Regions from separate parts of the Homo sapiens genome. Here region 2 is linked to region 1. Evidence: fine-mapped expression QTL. A gene starts in region 1. The other region holds a variant in brackets. All regions are shown on one strand. Distances are from middle to middle.

Region 1 (8,322 bases):
TGGGGCTTGAAGATGGAGCAGAGAAAGCCAGGGAGGGCCCACCCTGGCCACCACCCCTGAACCTTGGATACATACTCCGAAAGTCCAGCTGCAGGGACAGGACATCCTTGAAGAGGATGCCCTCCTGCTTGGCCAGCTGCCCGGCCTCCTCCTGGGGGCCCTGGTCCCCGACGGCCAGCTTGAGCATGTCATCGTCCATCACCCTCGGCTCCATCGAGTTGCACGGCTGGTTCATCTTCCCCCACGTTTTCCCTAAAAAACACCGCATTCTTCCTTCACGGCCTGCTTCTTTCTCTGTTTGAGGGCAGGGTCTGGCTGAGGTTTCCCCCTGTAGTGTCTTGTGGCCACTGGCACTCTGAGGAATGCCCCACGCCCAGCCCTGGGTCTGCTGCATCTCGGGGTTTGTATACTTACGCCAAGGCTGCTCCAGGGCTTCCTGGCAACCACCTGGGCCTGTCCACAGGGTTTCATCCCTTGACCCTACAGCCACAGCTGGGACCCTCGCTGGACCCACTGGACTGGTGTCCACACTGGTCTCCCTAGCCTGTGATCTTGACTCATCTTATGACTGTGGCCCTGTGTCAGGCCTCTGACTTTGTATGCCCATCCTCACTTGGGCTTGTGGGTACCAACCACTGACTGTGCTCCCTGGGCAGCCCCAGCCAGGCCTGTCAGCCTGCAGCTCCTCTTCCTTGAGCACCTCACCCCCTCCAGGCCGTCATGTGTGTATGCCCCACACCACACCACAAGCTTCTCCTGGTGCAGAGGGAGCCCCTGACCCAAGCTGCCCATTCACGTCCTCCCCGTGGGAGATGTGAAGTTGAGGCTGTGGAATGAGAGTGCCCATCGGAGCTGGCTGCTTGAGCTGGGGAGGAATAGGGAGTGTGGGCTGGCTGGGTACATAGTTAAGCAGAGAGCAAGAGGGGGAGGAGGCAGATGCACAGAGAAAAGCAGAGATGGGAACCTGGGAATCAGAAAACAAAAGACAAAGGACAGACAGATCGACACAGACAGAGGCTGCCTCCTTCTTGCTGGCTTTCCAGTCCCTAATGTCCCTAGGTCCAGGCCTCATGAGAGTTTCCTGTTTCTCACATGAAATCCTCTTCTACTTAAGCTAGCTCCAGTAGGTTATTTTTTAATTTAATTAATTTATTTTTTTTGAGACAGAGTCTCGCTCTGTCGCCCAGGCTGGGGCACAATGGCGCGGTCTCAGCTCACTGCAACGCCCGGATTCAAGCGATTCTCCTGCCTCAGCCTCCTGAGTAACTAGGATTTCAGGTGTCCACCACTACGCCTGGCTAATTTTTTGTATTTTTAGTAGAAACGGGGTTTCACCATGTTGGCCAGGCTGGTCTCAAACTCCTGACCTCAGGTGATCCACCTGCCTCCGCTTCCCAAAGTGCTGGGATTACAGGCATGAGCCACCGTGCCCAGCCTCCAGTAGATTCTGTTGCTAATGGTCCAGAGGGATTTGACTGAGACACCACAGCACAGGGGGGATCTGTAGATTTGGTCAGTCACAATGTGAGGCTGACTCCAGGCTGCCGTTCGTGGCTGGACCACATTCTCATCCTTATCAACCCTCTTGGTGAGGACATCCAGGAGGGATATTTTCCCCCACTTTCCACCCCTGATTCTTGCCTCCCTGCTGGCCCTACTTCCTATCTTTGTCTACATGCCTTCCCAGCATCTGGGCCTCCCTGAACCTCCTGTCCTTCTGCCCTGCTGGTCCCTGATGCTAGGCAGCCCCTGTGCTCTGTTTTTCATTCCACTGGGCACTGCTGGAGAAACTCCTGGTGCAGGGCTGATGGTGTCTGCTGAAAAGCCAGGTTGGGCCATACAATCCTGTTACCTGGTCTTAGAGACTTCCCTCTAAGACTGCCCTCCTCTTGCCTCCCTGACCATCCACTTGGATGCAGCTTCTGCAAATATGCATCCTCTGCCCTGAACTGTCCCTCATCAAATGTCCCAATGAGCTCTTGTGCACACTTCTCTCTTGCTTCCAGGGGAGGCATAGCCTCCACACCCTTCAACCCCTACCCCTTCTCCACCTGTGCCTTCCGTCCTCCCAAGACCTTGGTCCTTTTCCTCCCACTCTCTCCAATCTGTTCACACTGGCTCCACCTCGTTGGGGTGACTGATTCTACCCCCAAAGACAGTTCCAGACCTCGGCCTCTCTCTAGCTCCCCACTCTTATGCAATGGCTTCCCCTGCGGTTTCCCATAACTTGTCATCAACTTGTCTTTGGGGGAATTTTAATGTGTTATATTTGGCTGATGTTTTCTGCAAAGTGTTTGGCCTTTTTTTTGGGGGGGGGGTGGGGAGGTCAGGCGCGGTGGCTCACACTTGTAATCCCAGCACTTTGGGAGGCCGAGGTGGGCGGATCACAAGGTCAGGAGATCAAGACCATCCTGGCCAACATGGTGAAACCCTGACTTTATTAAAAATACAAAAATTAGCTGGGCATGGTGGCGCATGTCTGTAATCCCAGCTACTTGACAGGCTGAGGCAGGAGAATCGCTTGAACCAGGGAGTTGGAGGTTGCAGTGAGCCGAGATCGTGCACCACTGCACTCTAGCCTGGTGATAGAGCGAGACTCCATCAAGAAAAAAAAAAAAAAAAAGGTGCTATACTTTGGGAAATGACTCTTAATTTTGATTTCAAAACTTTAACTGACTTATCCCTCCTACTTCATCAGGGCCTGGTACCTGTGACAGATCAAGTTTGCTTTCAGTCAAGCCCAGCAATTGCTATGCTAGGAAATGGGGGATTGTTATTACATATGCTATTTGTTAAGCACATCAGAGCAGGATTTGGATCCTGACTGTGCATCTTTTGGCAACTCACTTCACCTATCTAAGCCTTGGCTTTCCCATCTGTAAAAGGTGGATAATTTCTCCCTTCTGCATTTGTGTGAGATCACGTATTTAGTCCACACATGGGTAGTGAGTAACTGCTATATGCTGTGAATAAAACAGACGGACTTTAACCCAGCTTCAGGCATGAATCAAACAATAATACAAATATTTAACTACAAACCATGACAATTTGTAGGTGTAGGGAACTATGAAATTGTACATTAGGGGCACCTGGCCTGGCCAAGGAAGACAGGGCTGATTGGAAGGACAAGCAGGAAAGAAGGAGGAGGTAACTTTGTGGAAAGGCCCTTTAGGTGGGAGAGAACAGACTTGTTGCACTTTGGCTGAAGTGATGCAAGTTTGGAGAGGTCTGTGGGAGTTTTGTTATTATCCTAGAATCCCTGGAAAGCACCTAGGGCTTAATAAGGGCAGCAACATTAGCTGGGCATGGTGGTGCATGCCTGTAGTCCCAGCTACCCTGGAGGCTGAGGCAGGAGAATCGCTTGAAACCGGGAGGCGGAGGTTGCGGTGAGCCGAGATCGTGCCATTGCACTCCAGCCTGGGCAACAAGAGCGAAACTCCATCTCAAAAAATAAAAAAAATAAGGGAAGCAATGTGATCAGATCTTAGTTTTTAAGAAGCTCACTCTAGCAACAGTACTGAGAATTGCAAAAGTACTGAGGTGAGAGATGACCAGGGTGTTAGCAAGATGTAGATGGGAGAAATTTCTAGAAACTTAATTTACATGTAGGGCTAATACTCACCAATATCCAGATAAGAAAACAGAAGCTAGTTAAAAAGGTTAATTAACATGCCCAACTTCATACACTTAGCACGTGGCAGAGTTCATTTTCCTAATCATGACTCAACTGTATCCAGGGTACTGGGGACTATCATTGCCACAGCTCACAGTGTTTCTCACAGTTGTCCTGGGTTCAGGGCCAAGGCCCAAACAGTCCTCTTCTATGGGGATCTTATAGTTTACCACCCAACCTGGGTCCCCTTTGACTTGCCTGATGATAGTGTTGTTGAAGACCAGAGAGGTTGGAGCTGGGGAAAGCAGCAGAGTTTTACACAACTGTCAACGGAGTGGCCTCCTCACAGATAACAGATCCAGAATTTTCCTGGGAAATGATAACCTGAAGTCAACAGGATCTGAAAACTATAGTCCCTATTGGCCATGAATTAATAAGGAGAAAATTGGTTGGGCGAGATGGCTTACACCTGTAATCCCAGCTCTTTGGGAGGCCGAGGTGGAAGGACTGCTTGAGTTCAGGAGTTCAAGACCAGCCCGGGCAACATAGGAAGACCCTGTCTCCATTTTTAAAAATAAAAAATAAATAAATAAATAAATAATGAACAAAATTTTTCTTAAAAAAGAATAAAATCAATCACTTACTGAATGCTTACTGTGTGCTCAGTGCACATGCATTATTTAAGTACATGTAAGCTCCGGAGGCCATAAAAAGGGAGTCCTAATGCCCTTATTTCCCAGCTAGGGAACCTGAGGCTCCAGGGAGGTAAAGGAACTTGTCCAAAGTCGTACAATGAGTTACTGACAGAGACGGATACAGAACTTGAGTAGCCGTATTCACATCCAAAGCGGTATATACAGTACCAAGATGAAATCATTTGATAGTTATGAGGTCAGTTATGATGGCTAAATTCTGGGAAAAGTTATCAGTGGACCGGGTACCTCTCTTTCTATGAAAGGAGGCTGGAAGACGGAACCCCTTAAAAATCCATTCTGGCCCTGCTCCCTCGGGAAATGCTTCCTTAGTATTTTTTTTTTTTTTTATTCAAAAGCTTGACAAGCCCAGGACTAAAGTGTCTTGGCTGTCTCACACGACTGTAAAGTGGCTGGGAGAGGACCTACGTGCTCATTTTATAAATGAGAAGGGCCGGGCCGGCGTTCTCCGAGAAAAAGGTCACAGGAAAGAGTTACGTCGGGCACTATCTGTCCCTGCAAGTCCTCCGGGAGCCTCAGCTCCCAGGTCTCACCTTCTCAAGCGCTGGGAACTCGGCGGTTCCACGCAGCAGACGCGTCTCCCGGTTGCTGGGGAACCAAGCGCCGCGACTTGGTTGCTAAGGGGAAGTCAGAAGGGAGACATCCTGGGTGAAAGTTGACAAGTCACGTGACCACATCTCCGTGTGGTGAAACACTCCTTACACCAACCAGCCGTAGAGAAAACAAATGTTTCTCCAATCAGTACTTTCTATGGGCGGGGATATTCCTAGATTCACCTCTGTTCCGTCCATTTGCGTGATTGACTCGTCTTTTGTCCAATAATAGTAAGAATCCTTTAGATTGACCAATATACAGAGGAATCAAAATGCGCAGCTTCCCCTTTGGGGGCGGGCCAGGGGAGGTGCCGCCACGGCTGACAGGGACTCCGGTGACCTAGCTCGCTCCTCCGCCCAATCGGACGCTGCGGGGTGGGTGGGGGCTTTGCTGACAGAGGTGTAACGACCAATAGGAGGCGGGCTTCGTAGGTGTCCCCCAATAGAGACGCGGCAAGGGGGCGGGGCCAAAGGCCCTAAGCTCGGCGTTCCAGAGAGTGGGGAGGGGGCAAGTGTCAGTCAGGACGGGAGTCCGGCGGGTTACAGCGGAGGCCTAGGTGGCAGACAGGGGGCCCGGGCCGCTGCGTGTTGTCCACCCAAGATGGAGTTCCTCCTGGGGAACCCGTTCAGCACACCAGTGGGGCAGTGCCTCGGTAAGGCCGCGTGTGGGGCAGGAGGCTGGGCAACGGCGGCCGCTGATCCGGCTGGTGAGGACCGCGGGCCTCCGCCGGGCGCCGGTGCCACTTCACGAGCGGGCTGGGCCTCCGCCAGCCGCGGGTGCCACTCCACGAGCGGGCTGGGCATCCTGGTCGTCGGGCCTTTGCCGGGCGCTTGTGCCACCTCACGGGCGGGCTGGGCATCCTGGTCGTCTGGCCTTCACTGGGCGTCGGTGCCACCTCACGGGCGGGTTGGGCATCCTGGTCGTCGGGCGTTCGCCGGGCGCCGGTGCCACCTCCCGGGGGGGCTGGGCCTTCGCCGGGTGCCGGTGCTATCCCACGGGCAGGCAGGGCATCTGTGTCCTCGGGCCTCCTCCCGGGCACTGGTGCCACCTCACGGGCGCGCCAGTGCCACTCTGCCAGGAGGCACCCCTGAGGCCCAACTTGGACTCGGAGATGCCCCAGGCTTCCCTGCCCATCAAGGCTCAGCCCTTCCTTTTGCTGCTAGAGGTGGTGCCAACTGCTGGTCTGCTTCCCCAATGCGCTTTGGGAGATGCCACTGCATGTGTCTTTATCCAGCCCAGCAGGCTCACTGCCACTGCCCCAAGGACCCAGTTCTCCCAAACCCTTTGTGGGATGTCACCTTCTTCTCCATCTTTGTCCCTCCTCTTCGGTACCAGCAACCCTCAGACTGGGCACCCTCCCAGAAATGCCCCCTGCTCCGGGACTTGCTAATTTGAGCTGCAACTCAGCTGTGCTGTAGGAGGGACTGGGATAGGAGGAGGGGCTCTTGGAGGGTGATTATCTTGGCAGGGGGATGGCATGCCTGCAGTGCCTCCCAGGAAAGAAGGGAGGCTGTGTTATTTAATGATAAGAGCCCTGGACTGGGAATCATGGAAGCCTGGACTCTAGCAGTGGTTTTGTCAGTGACTCCATATGACCTTGTGCCCTTTCTGGTTTGAAGTTCCCCTGTCTGTCAAAGTGTTTGGAGATGAGATGTGATAGATCCCTTAAAGTTCTCAAGTTTTGATATTCTTTGTAGTACTCTGCACATTGACTGTTGCTTCCTCCCCCACCTCATATTAAGTTTACCAAAGCTGAAATCTTTTGTTGGCAATGTAGAGAGAATGGTACTCAGCATTATCTGTTAATCCTATAGGGGGGATGTGGACACCTGGGGACACCAGAGATGGCCAGAATCATGGATAAGGAAAGCCCAAAGTGTAGGTAAAGGAATACTGAAATGGCCACCATATGGGACTTCCTTACTAAGAAAGCAACTTGCCTTTTTACCCAAGGCAGTGGCTTATGCCACTTGATCAGTCAAGAATGCTGATTAGTTTGTTTGAAAACTGGATTCCTCCTGGTTGGTTGAAGGACTGGTAAAACGTCTTTTATGAGCCAGGATCTTTGGTGTTCTTATGGGCCTGATTTCAGCAGTAGTGATTTGTTTATTTTCTGCTTTGCTTATGAAATTTTAGCTTACTTTCCAGCCTTTAGTGGAGCCTATAAACTTATTGAGGTCTCTCCTGTTGGCTAATTAGCATTTAGGAGCCTTTCTTTACTTTCTGGCGTAGTATCTTTTATAATGCATGAGGGACCCCAAAAGAGTGTTTTCCCACCTTTTTGACATCTTGTCTCTTGCTGCCCACTGGAGAGTCTCTGGATTCTCACTTCCTTACTTCTTCCCCATGTCCTTTTCCACTCTCTTCAGGTGCTCTTGCATGGCAGCCACACTCCAAAAACTAATTTCCAGCCAGTTAATGGAGGGAGCCAGAAAACTTGCGAGAATTGTTTTCCTTTCTGTCCCCTTTATAATAGGAAGCTCTACACCTTTAAAATGACAAGGTAGTAAATGAGGGGTAGAAGTTAAAGGGGATTTAAAATACAAATGTGGTTGGGTGCGGTGGCTCACGCCTGTAATCTCAGCACTTTGGGAGGTTGAGGCGGGCGGATCACAAGGTCAGGAGATCGAGACCATCTTGGCTAACACGGTGAAACCCCGTCTCTACTAAAAATCCAAAAAAAAAAAGAAAATTAGCCAGGCGTGGTGGCATGCGCCTGTAGTCCCAGCTACTCGGGAGGCTGAGGCAGGAGAATTGCTTGAACCCGGGAGGCGGAGTTTGCAGTGAGCTGAGATTGTGCCACTGCACTCCAGCCTGGGCGACAGAGTGAGACTCTGTCTCAAAAAACAAACAAACAACAACAACAACAACAAAAAACCAAATATAAGAGATATAGGGATATATAGCAAGTGGAAAGAGCTTGATACTTCTGTCAGGGAGACCTAAGTTGAATTTTGACCTGGCCCCCATTTCTTGGCTGTGTGACCCCAGAAAATTGTGTTGCTTTCTGAGGTTTAGTTTGTCAGTCTTCTGAGAGAGAGAGAGAGAGAGAGAAAGATTCCTATTCACAGAGTAATGTAGTTTAAATGAGATAATGTATGAAAACACTTAGCATAGTATCTGGAACATAGTAGAAGCTCAGTAAATTGAAACTGCCACTGTTAATAACAGAATATTTAAGTTAGGGTTGGATTTTCTATCTGGAGAGGATATGTGAAACAACTGGCCCGTCTGTGACCTGTGAAGGAAAATACCCTACCAGGCCCCAGGATTCACCATTGCTCATAAGATGCTTGACTAAAGATGATGATGGCTCCCCACTGCCAGGTAGCCAATAGGTCATTTCAGTTCAGTTCAGGTAAATGATTAATGGACAGAATTAGGTTCTAATGTATATTCCGT
Region 2 (8,322 bases), 45 kb before region 1:
TGCCAGCGCACTCCAGCTTGAGTGACAGAGCGAGACCCTGTCTCAATAAAAAAGAAAACCTCCATGATATATGACATAAACATTATTTTAAGGAAAACCATTTTAAATATTGTTTTTAACTTTTATATGTCCTCAAATGTGAAAAACTTTAAAGAGATGTAAAAGGCAGATGGCCTTTTGATGGAGATTCCAGGTGAATGAATGAGCATTTCAGGCAGCTGCGTATAACCGAGCCCTAGCTCACATGACTCAGGAACCATCCCTTCATTCAGCACAGTTTCTTGGTCCTCCAAGTTTGCTTTTGAGGGACAGAAAATCAGGTCGGGAGGCCACTGACCATGGTGGCAGTTGCTCCTGTAGTCAAGACTAGCTCCTTGGCCAATGCACACACATGCTCTGAAGCTTAGGCCTTTGTTTCTAGTCAAAAGGTGGGCTGCTCTTGGGCTACAGCATGACAGAGACATGCCGAAGCCCTTTTCCTTTCAGATACGGCGTGGAGATCAGCTCCTCCACCAGCATAATGGGACCCAGCATCCCTGCCAAAACTCGGGAGGTGCTCGTCAGCCACCTGGCATCTTACAACACATGGGCTTTACAAGGCATGTATGGAGTTTCTTGTGGGCTTGGCAGGTGGCTGTGAAGGCCATCAGTGTCTGAAGCCTGTACTTGCCCCTCCCCAGGTCCTGTGAGTGGAGAGGCACAGAGTGTTCTGGGCTAGCTGAGTGTGGAGGCTGGGTGGCTCTGATGCTAGCCAATCACTCTACGCTCTAGGCTCACACCTTTCCACCTTCGACTTCGCCAGCAGAAGTCTTGAGTTCAATCTCATTGCCCTGGCTTGGGTCACATGTCCATCCATGAACCAATCACTAGACTGGGTGCGGAAAGCTCTGATTTGCCAAGTTCGGGTCATGTGTCTCACTAGGTAAGAGCAGAGGAGGATCACCCCCAGGGAAGACCAGAGTGCTCTTTCAGAAGAGTGGGACAATCGCTGGATGGCTCTTTGCACCACTCACTCCTGTTCTCTGCTAGGGCTGCTGGGACTCACAAGGGGTAGGTTGTGGCAGCTGCCCTGTTTTGGGTTCTGACTTGGCTTGTGTCCCTGCAGGGATTGAGTTTGTAGCTGCCCAGCTCAAGTCCATGGTGCTAACCTTGGGCCTGATTGACCTGCGCCTGACAGTGGAGCAGGCCGTGCTGCTGTCACGCCTGGAGGAGGAGTACCAGGTGAGGAGCAGCACCTCAGGTCCCGCCTCCCCCTTCCTAGTTCAGACTCACTTTGGGGGAGCAGCTAACCCATCTGAAATATAGTTATGCATACTTGGCTTTTATTACTTTTATGTACACGCAGAAATCAAAATCAAGGACCAGCAGAAGTATTGTCAAGTAGGCCTGGCATGGTGGTTCACACCTGTAATCCCAGCACTTTGGGTGGCTGAGGAGGATGGATCATTTGAGGTCAGGAGTTTGAGACCAGCCTGGGCAACATGGCAAAACCCTCTCTCTACAAAAATACAAAAATTAGCACCTGTAGTCTCAGCTACTTGGGAAGCTGACGTGGGAGGATTGCTTGAACCTGGGAGGTGGAGGTTGTAGTGAGCCAGGATTGTGCCACTGCATTCTAGCCTGGGTGACAGAGTGAGACCCTGTCTCAAAAAAAAAAAAAAAAAAGGTAAGATAATAACAATAAAAAAATAACAGTAAGTGCTACCGCTGTGTTCCTGCATTGTATCCATCTCACCTCCTCTCAGCAGCCTGGGCAGGTAGGAGCTGTGGTTATCTCTGTTTTACACAGAAGGAAATGGAGGTGCAAGGTTGCACCTCTGGAAAATGTGCCAGCTGGGGTTTGAAGCCAGGTCTGGTGATTTTAGGGCCAAGGCCGTCAGGCCTCACTCTGCACAAGGAGGTTCACGGGTGGATAAAGACCATCTGGGCTTGATAAAGCCTGCAGAACAGGCCCTGCCAAGATGACTGAGAACCCGTTTGTGCTCCTTCATCAGCTGAGCCTTCATACCCTGACATTTTATCTGGCTGGCAGAGGAGCATAGGGGTAGCTGCTGTTTGTATACAAGTTTTGATTTAGTGGGCTCAGAATTAAGGTTTTGCCACAGTATGGTTTGCATTTTTTAACTCTGAAAATTATAGCCATCTTTGCAGTCTTTTTATTGTTATTCCACCAACCTCAGAAGGTTAATTGCTATTATGAATTGGTCCCTAATATGGTAAAAACAAACAAACAAAAAAACACAAAACTTTTTGTGATGTATTTCCCTAGTTCTTGTAGTCTTCTGCTCAGAAAAATGCCAGGGAAAAAACTATTTTTGTATAACAAAGGAGGCCCGCTACTATTCTCTGGATGTCAGAACTGATTACATAGGAAGGGGGTGACTTGTAGGGCTGGTGGGAAGCCAGTCTGGGCTCTGCTTCTGACTATGGGACCCAAGCCAGGCCATCATTCTCTGAACTTTGGTTTCGATCCTCTACAAACAGAGGAATAACCTGAATTATGTATGTGATGGTATACAATGAAAGTATGGAATACTCTTCAGATGACATATTACAATTGTACAGTTTGGGACCAGGCAGCCCAGAAGTTCAAATAGCTTGTGTAGCATGGTGGATTCTGAGTTCCTGGATGAGCTGGGGCGGCCAGGCCAGGCCTCTTGGGCAACTAGCCAGGGAGGAGCCAGCAAGGTTTGGTTGGACTTACACTGTCTGGACAGCCACATCGTGTGTCTGAGCGTTCCTCCCTCTTGTTTTTAGAGCTCCAGACAGAGAATCTGCAACTTGTCCCCAGTGTGCAGAGCAGAGGCATCTGTAGTTCTGTGACTACCACAAGAGTCAGAGTTGAAGCCACTGCGTGGCCTTACTTGATTTAGTTATTCCACCCACATGGCGCTGGGGGGCACTTGTAGCCCAGCATGGCAAGGCAACTTGGAGAGGCTGTCCATTCACAGGCTTTCTGGGAGGAAGTGTAGGAGAAGGGATGGCACATAAGGCCTCCTCAAAGAAGTCACATGGGTGGTTCTGGTACCCAGCCTGCCCAGTGGTGGGTGGGCAGCCACTGGCCCTGGGCCTGGGCCTGGACTGCACTTCTTCCAGACCATCCATGCCACAGAGAGCACAGGTGCCTGCTCCGGCTCCCTGGGGGTGGGGTGGTGGGGTGTGTGTGTGTGTGTGTGTGTGTGTGTGTGTGTGTGTGGTGTTTTTGAGACAGGGTCTTGCTCTGTTGCCCAAGTGGGAGTGCAGCGGTGTGATCTTGGCTTACTGCAGCTTCAGCCTCCTGGGCTCAAAGCAGTCCTCCTACCTCAGTCTCTCAAATAGCTGGGACTACAGGTGCACCCCCACCACACCCAGCTAATTTTTAAACCTTTTTGTAGAGGCGAGGTTGCACCATATTTGCCCAGGCTGGTCTTGAACTCCTGGATTCAAGCAGTCTTCCTGCCTCGGTCTCCCAGAGTGCTGGGATTACAGGCGTGAGCCACCGTGTCTGGCGTACCTGGGTGTTCTTACCTGCCACCTCCCCCTAGGCATGTCTCATGTGTTTTGGCAAGATACAAACCTGTTGCCCTCAGCCAACCTATTGGAATGGAACGTGGCTTTGGTCAGGAGGCAGCCAGGCACTGGCCACTCACCCAGCAACTTGTCTTGTCCTTCCCTCAGATCCA[G/A]AAGTGGGGCAACATTGAGTGGGCCCATGACTATGAGCTGCAGGAGCTGCGGGCCCGCACCGCCGCCGGCACCCTCTTCATCCATCTCTGCTCCGAGAGCACCACAGTCAAGCACAAGCTCCTGAAGGAGTGAGGCCTGGGCAGAGCACACTCAGCAGGATAGAGGCAGTGCAGCCACAGCTCCCCCGGCCTTCAGGGCTCCCCAGCCTGTGGGGCTGGCTTCCTTGGCTTTTGGGGACTCGGCCTCAGCGTCACCCTGAGATTCCCCCCGAGACACAGTGCGCTAGTACGGCTGTCCGGAGGTCAGCCTGATTTCAACCCAGGTGCCCCTGGCCTGGCCAGCAGTGAATGTAGGAGATGAATTGTGCAAGTGACTTTCTCTCGACTCTGATTTTATTAAATATTTCTCCACCCTGGAAATGTGCTGAGCCCTGTTTTCACGTATGCCTCTGCACTTCTCCATTCTTCCTGTTTTGTCTAGGTTCCAGAGGGTTAAACAGCTTATCTCCCATGGCGTGTTTGGATATCTGCTGCCTGTGGTCAGGAACCTTGCACTGGGGAAACAATCATGTAATCCACAGACAACTCTATTTGTGTTCTTCAGCCTCAGCCTGAAGGCTTTTTTTTGGCTGGCTTTTAATCAAACAATCTTTTGAAACAATTGTGGTCTAAGCTGGTTGTTTCTATTTGTTCCTACTGTTCTAAAACAAATGATTTACTCTAGAAAGTAGAAAATAGAAGTTGTTTCTGGGCTAAAAGCCTGGACAGGCTTGACAAGGTCACCTGATGTGCATGTTTCCGCTCATCTCCCACCCAGGAGTCCTAAGGGTCCTCCTGACATAGCCACCTCTAGTGTCCCAGGAGGCAGGCGCTACTTTCTGGTGTCAGGCCAGTAAGAGGGCAGGGGGGAAGAGTGGTTCTCAGGCAGACAGGCTCTCTCAGCCCTGTGTCCTTGCCAGCCTGAGTAAGGTAATGGCATCAACCCTGCTCACAGGGCACTGATCGCATGCTGGGTGCCTCTCCACGCTTCCCATGCACTGTCTCCCTGAACTGTTCCTCGAAGGCACTGTGAGGTACTGTCACAGATGACACCAGGGCTGCGGGGGTGACATGGTGGAGCTGGGATGCCCTGCCTGCACTCTGCTCTTCTGGAGGGTCCTCAGGTCCTTGTGGCTAACCTCAGCCTTGGTGGGCAGGCCCAGGCCCCAGCACTGTGGTGGGAGCTGCAGCCTCTCCTCCTGCTTCCCTGCCCCTCAGCACCCAGAGCAGAGAAGGTCTTAGCCCACACCGGCCTCCTTTTGCCTGTGGCTGGCAGCCTGCCTAGGCATGGCAGGGGAAACGGCAGGGGCACGTGTCTGACTTTATGCCACAGCCAAGAATCTAGCTGATGGCAGTGCCCTTGGGAGTTGCTCTGTCAGCTGGCCTGGGACCGGCTGTTCATCTCAAACTCTTTCTCTTGTTCCTACATGAACATTTTTTTTTTTTTTTTTTTTTTTTTTTTTTTTTTTTTGAGACGAAGTCTCGCTCTGTCGCCCAGGCTGGAGTGCAGTGGTGCGATCTTGGCTCACTGCAACCTCCGCCTCCCAGGTTCAAGTGATTCTCCTGCCTCAGCCTCCTGAGTAGCTGGGATTACAGGTGCACGCTACCACATCTGGCTAATTTTTGTATTTTTAGTAGAGACAAGGTTTCACCATGTTGGTCAGGCTGGTCTCGAACTCCTGACCTCGTGATCTGCATGCCTCGGCCTCCCAAAGTGCTGGGATTACAGACGTGAACCACCGCACCCAGCTGATTTTTTTTTTTTTTTTATGAGTAGGGGAAATGTGAAATGAGTCCTTTATTTTCTCTACTTTTGGAAGTTTTTCCAGGGGTGGGGGAAGAATGGTGTTGGGGATCGCGGTTGAGAGATGCCCAGCAACTCTCTAGAGGTGCGGGTGAGGCGTGTGCACTTCCTTCTCCTGGCTGGGGCTGGTGCTATGTTTTGAAGAAGCTCCTGTGGCTGACATTCATCTAGTCTAGGATGTCGCCACATTCCAGGTTGTCCAGTTCGCTCTGCATGTGGTCGATGTACTGATTGATCTCCTTCACGCGCTTGCGGTTCCTCATGATCTCATCCTTGTGAATCTGAGGAGTGAAACCAAAGCCCGATTCCTTACATCAGATCATTGGTTAATATCTTTCACTGAATCCAGTTTGAGGGAAGGGGAAAATAGTTCCTTTAGATCTGCAAACCTCATTTGCTTCAGCGCCTCCCCAGGTTCTGCTGATCTCTGTATATTTGAGGTAGGAATTAGGAAAATGATGAAGCCCATGGGTTTTAAAGTCTCTGGGCAATGTTGTCTTCAGTGTGGAATTCTATAATCCTTAATTTTATTTCTTCCTTCATTTCATTCCTTAATGAAAATTCTATCCACTACCTAGGGAGGATTTCCATGTCAGCTAGAAAAGTTCATCCAGCCTGCTAGGATGGCTTGGGATTGACTCACCCTGTCTATTAAACGTGTACACCAAGAGTTGATTCTGGTCACCAGCTCATCTTCTCGATTGTCAATCTTCAGGAGGTGGATGTCGTGCGATGCCCCGACAGCATTAACAATCGTATCTTTATCGACAAAAAGCTGGTGAGTGAAAAGAATCCAATGAGAAAGTGTGTGTCATTATACCGTGAACACAAAGGGAGCTGAACAGAGAAGGAGCATTTGGAAGTCCCCTGGCTGTGCAGGCCACACTCAGAGCAGAGCCCACCTTTGTATCAGCGCACTCTGCCGATTCATCTGTGAATTCATCTGTGACAGCCGCTTCCCCAACTGCACAGGGCAGGTGTTGTGGGGAAAGGGCCAACCAGGGTGTTACTTTGCAGTCCCCGCTGGAAGCATGTTTCCTCCAGGGTGAAGGCAGATGGCTGCCCAGGGGGCACCTCACCCAGGACATCTGTTCTCACAATGCTTCTCTCTCAATTACTCTCAAGTCTAACTTGCCCAAAACCTCTGCCTGCTGGGTGGAAGCATGAGGCTGGCTGAGGGTCTCGAGGCTGCTCTGAAGACAGCAGGCCCTACAAACTCATGGGTGTTCACCCCACAGTTGTCTCTCCACTGCCACTCATGTCAACAAAACCAAACTTTGGATTCCATTTGGAGTATCCTTCTGCCTTCTCTTGTTCCTGACTTTGCTGTCTTGTAAAAAGTTGTTAGAAACAACCACCTTCTAATAGGCCTCACTGGTTCTAGGTGTTGACACTGTGGCTATTGTTGCCTGGGATGGTTGAAATGGAGTCATTTCCCAGAGCAGGGCAAGGCCACTGAAGCACTCAGTAAGCAGTTGCTTCCACCTTGAAGCAGAGGCGCTTGGTAAGGCAGAGCACCTGAATGCTCTGTATTGCAGGGAGGATTTGCAAGTGGAGTGTGCATTTTTTGTTCTTTCCTGTAGTGGCAGTTAACTTAATGGTCTCTAAAACGTTCTGTGCAATCTTAAGATGTTAATATTTCTGCCAAAAAAAGTATTCTTTGGTCAAATACATTTGGGAAAGCCAGCACATCCTAGGCCCCTCCTAAAGATTTGCTGGGCACAAAGTATTCTGAAGGCTCTACAAAGTCCTGTGGAAAATAAACCCTTTAAGCTTTGTCTCTCTTGGTTTTCCAACTTTTTTGGCTACAGACTTCAGAGTAATGCCTGTTAATGTCTTGTGGGATGCTGATTTTCCACATAATCTCATGTGGGAAAAGCCAGGTTAGCTGATATGTGGAATGGGGTGTCTGGGGGACCAATTAGCACAGTCACAAGGGAGAAATGTCAAGAAATTATTAAGTTCTTTCCATGTGTGTACAAGGTCCCAGGCCAGGCTCTGGGAATGGTTCAAAGGTGTGTAAAGCCTGTTTTCGGTGAGCCTTGGCAGTGTGCTTAGGAGTGGGTGTCCTGGTTATTTTAGAGATAACTACAACCACAGTGTCAACCCATCACGAAAAGGTTCTCATCCTTCATTCTAAAAGGTGGGTCATAGTGGAGCTCTAAGCCAGGCAGAGAAATCATACCCCTCAGAGTTTGAATATGTAGAAAACAGCTTCAAAAGCTGTGAGAAGCAACAGAAACTGAAATCTGCTTAGAAACATACATGATTAGAATTGGTTATGAAAAACTGTGTGACATTTGTAAAATGAAAACAAAAGGAAACTGGGTTTAAGGGAATTGTTTTGAAATGTGAGTTACAAGTTGTTTCTGGACTTTGGGTGGCCTAGAGTGGTGGCTACTTCAATTTTCCCTCTTAGAATAGTTTTTATGGGTAGAATATTCCAGATCCCTCTCCAGTTTCTGCAGGTTGAAAGCACTAGGGTGGAGGCAGGGGCTGTGCAAACAGGTATTCCTGAGTCTTTTTTGAGCTGTTGCCCTGCTCTGTGGTCCTTGTGGCTGTAAAGACACATTTCTTTCAAAGCAACTTCTTTGTTTAAACACGTTGGCACTGGCCGGGCACGGTGTCACATGCCTGTAATCTCAGCACTTTGGGAGGCCAAGGCGGGAAGGTGGGTGGATCACCTCAGTCAGGAGTTCAAGACCAGCCTGGCCAATATGGTGAATAAAAATACAAAAATTAGCTGGGCATGGTGGCGGGTGCCTGTAATCCCATCTACTTGGAAGGCTAAGGCAGGAGGATAGCTTGAACCTGGGA

Alleles and levels. Positions count from the first base shown, and alleles are read on the strand shown. Sizes are in standard deviations (SD) of each study's normalised expression.
In carriers of allele G in region 2, the expression in transverse colon of the gene that starts at base 4,972 in region 1 tends to be lower than with A alone (large effect, 0.89 SD a copy in GTEx).

What was found. PIP is the estimated chance that this variant, and not a neighbour inherited with it, causes the effect.
Region 2: its variant is fine-mapped to the expression of DRC3 in transverse colon (GTEx, PIP above 0.99). The same link has a PIP of 0.9 or more in esophagus muscle, fibroblasts and subcutaneous fat.

What each region holds. Positions count from the first base shown.
Region 1 is chr17:17,969,512-17,977,833 of GRCh38, reverse strand. It overlaps DRC3 (dynein regulatory complex subunit 3), which reads right to left and starts at 4,972. Exons shown (of 14, transcript NM_031294.4): 1 at 4,860-4,972; 2 at 3,872-3,982; 3 at 76-252. The coding sequence starts at 235. TOM1L2 (target of myb1 like 2 membrane trafficking protein) reads left to right here and starts at 5,434. Exons shown (of 15, transcript NM_001082968.2): 1 at 5,434-5,572. The coding sequence starts at 5,521. It overlaps LOC107984989 (a long non-coding RNA gene), which reads left to right. Exons shown (of 3, transcript XR_001752801.2): 3 at 1-278. RefSeq lists enhancers at 4,681-5,000, 5,372-5,941 and a silencer at 5,681-5,730.
Region 2 is chr17:18,014,022-18,022,343 of GRCh38, reverse strand. DRC3 (dynein regulatory complex subunit 3) reads right to left here. Exons shown (of 14, transcript NM_031294.4): 13 at 6,149-6,280; 14 at 5,455-5,786. The coding sequence ends at 5,673. It overlaps ATPAF2 (ATP synthase mitochondrial F1 complex assembly factor 2), which reads left to right. Exons shown (of 8, transcript NM_145691.4): 6 at 487-599; 7 at 1,106-1,221; 8 at 3,658-4,323. The coding sequence ends at 3,795. Among named protein-coding and RNA genes, the nearest start is that of ATPAF2, 21 kb to the left of the region's middle. RefSeq lists a silencer at 4,895-5,189. The variant G/A (reference allele first, on the strand shown) is at 3,663.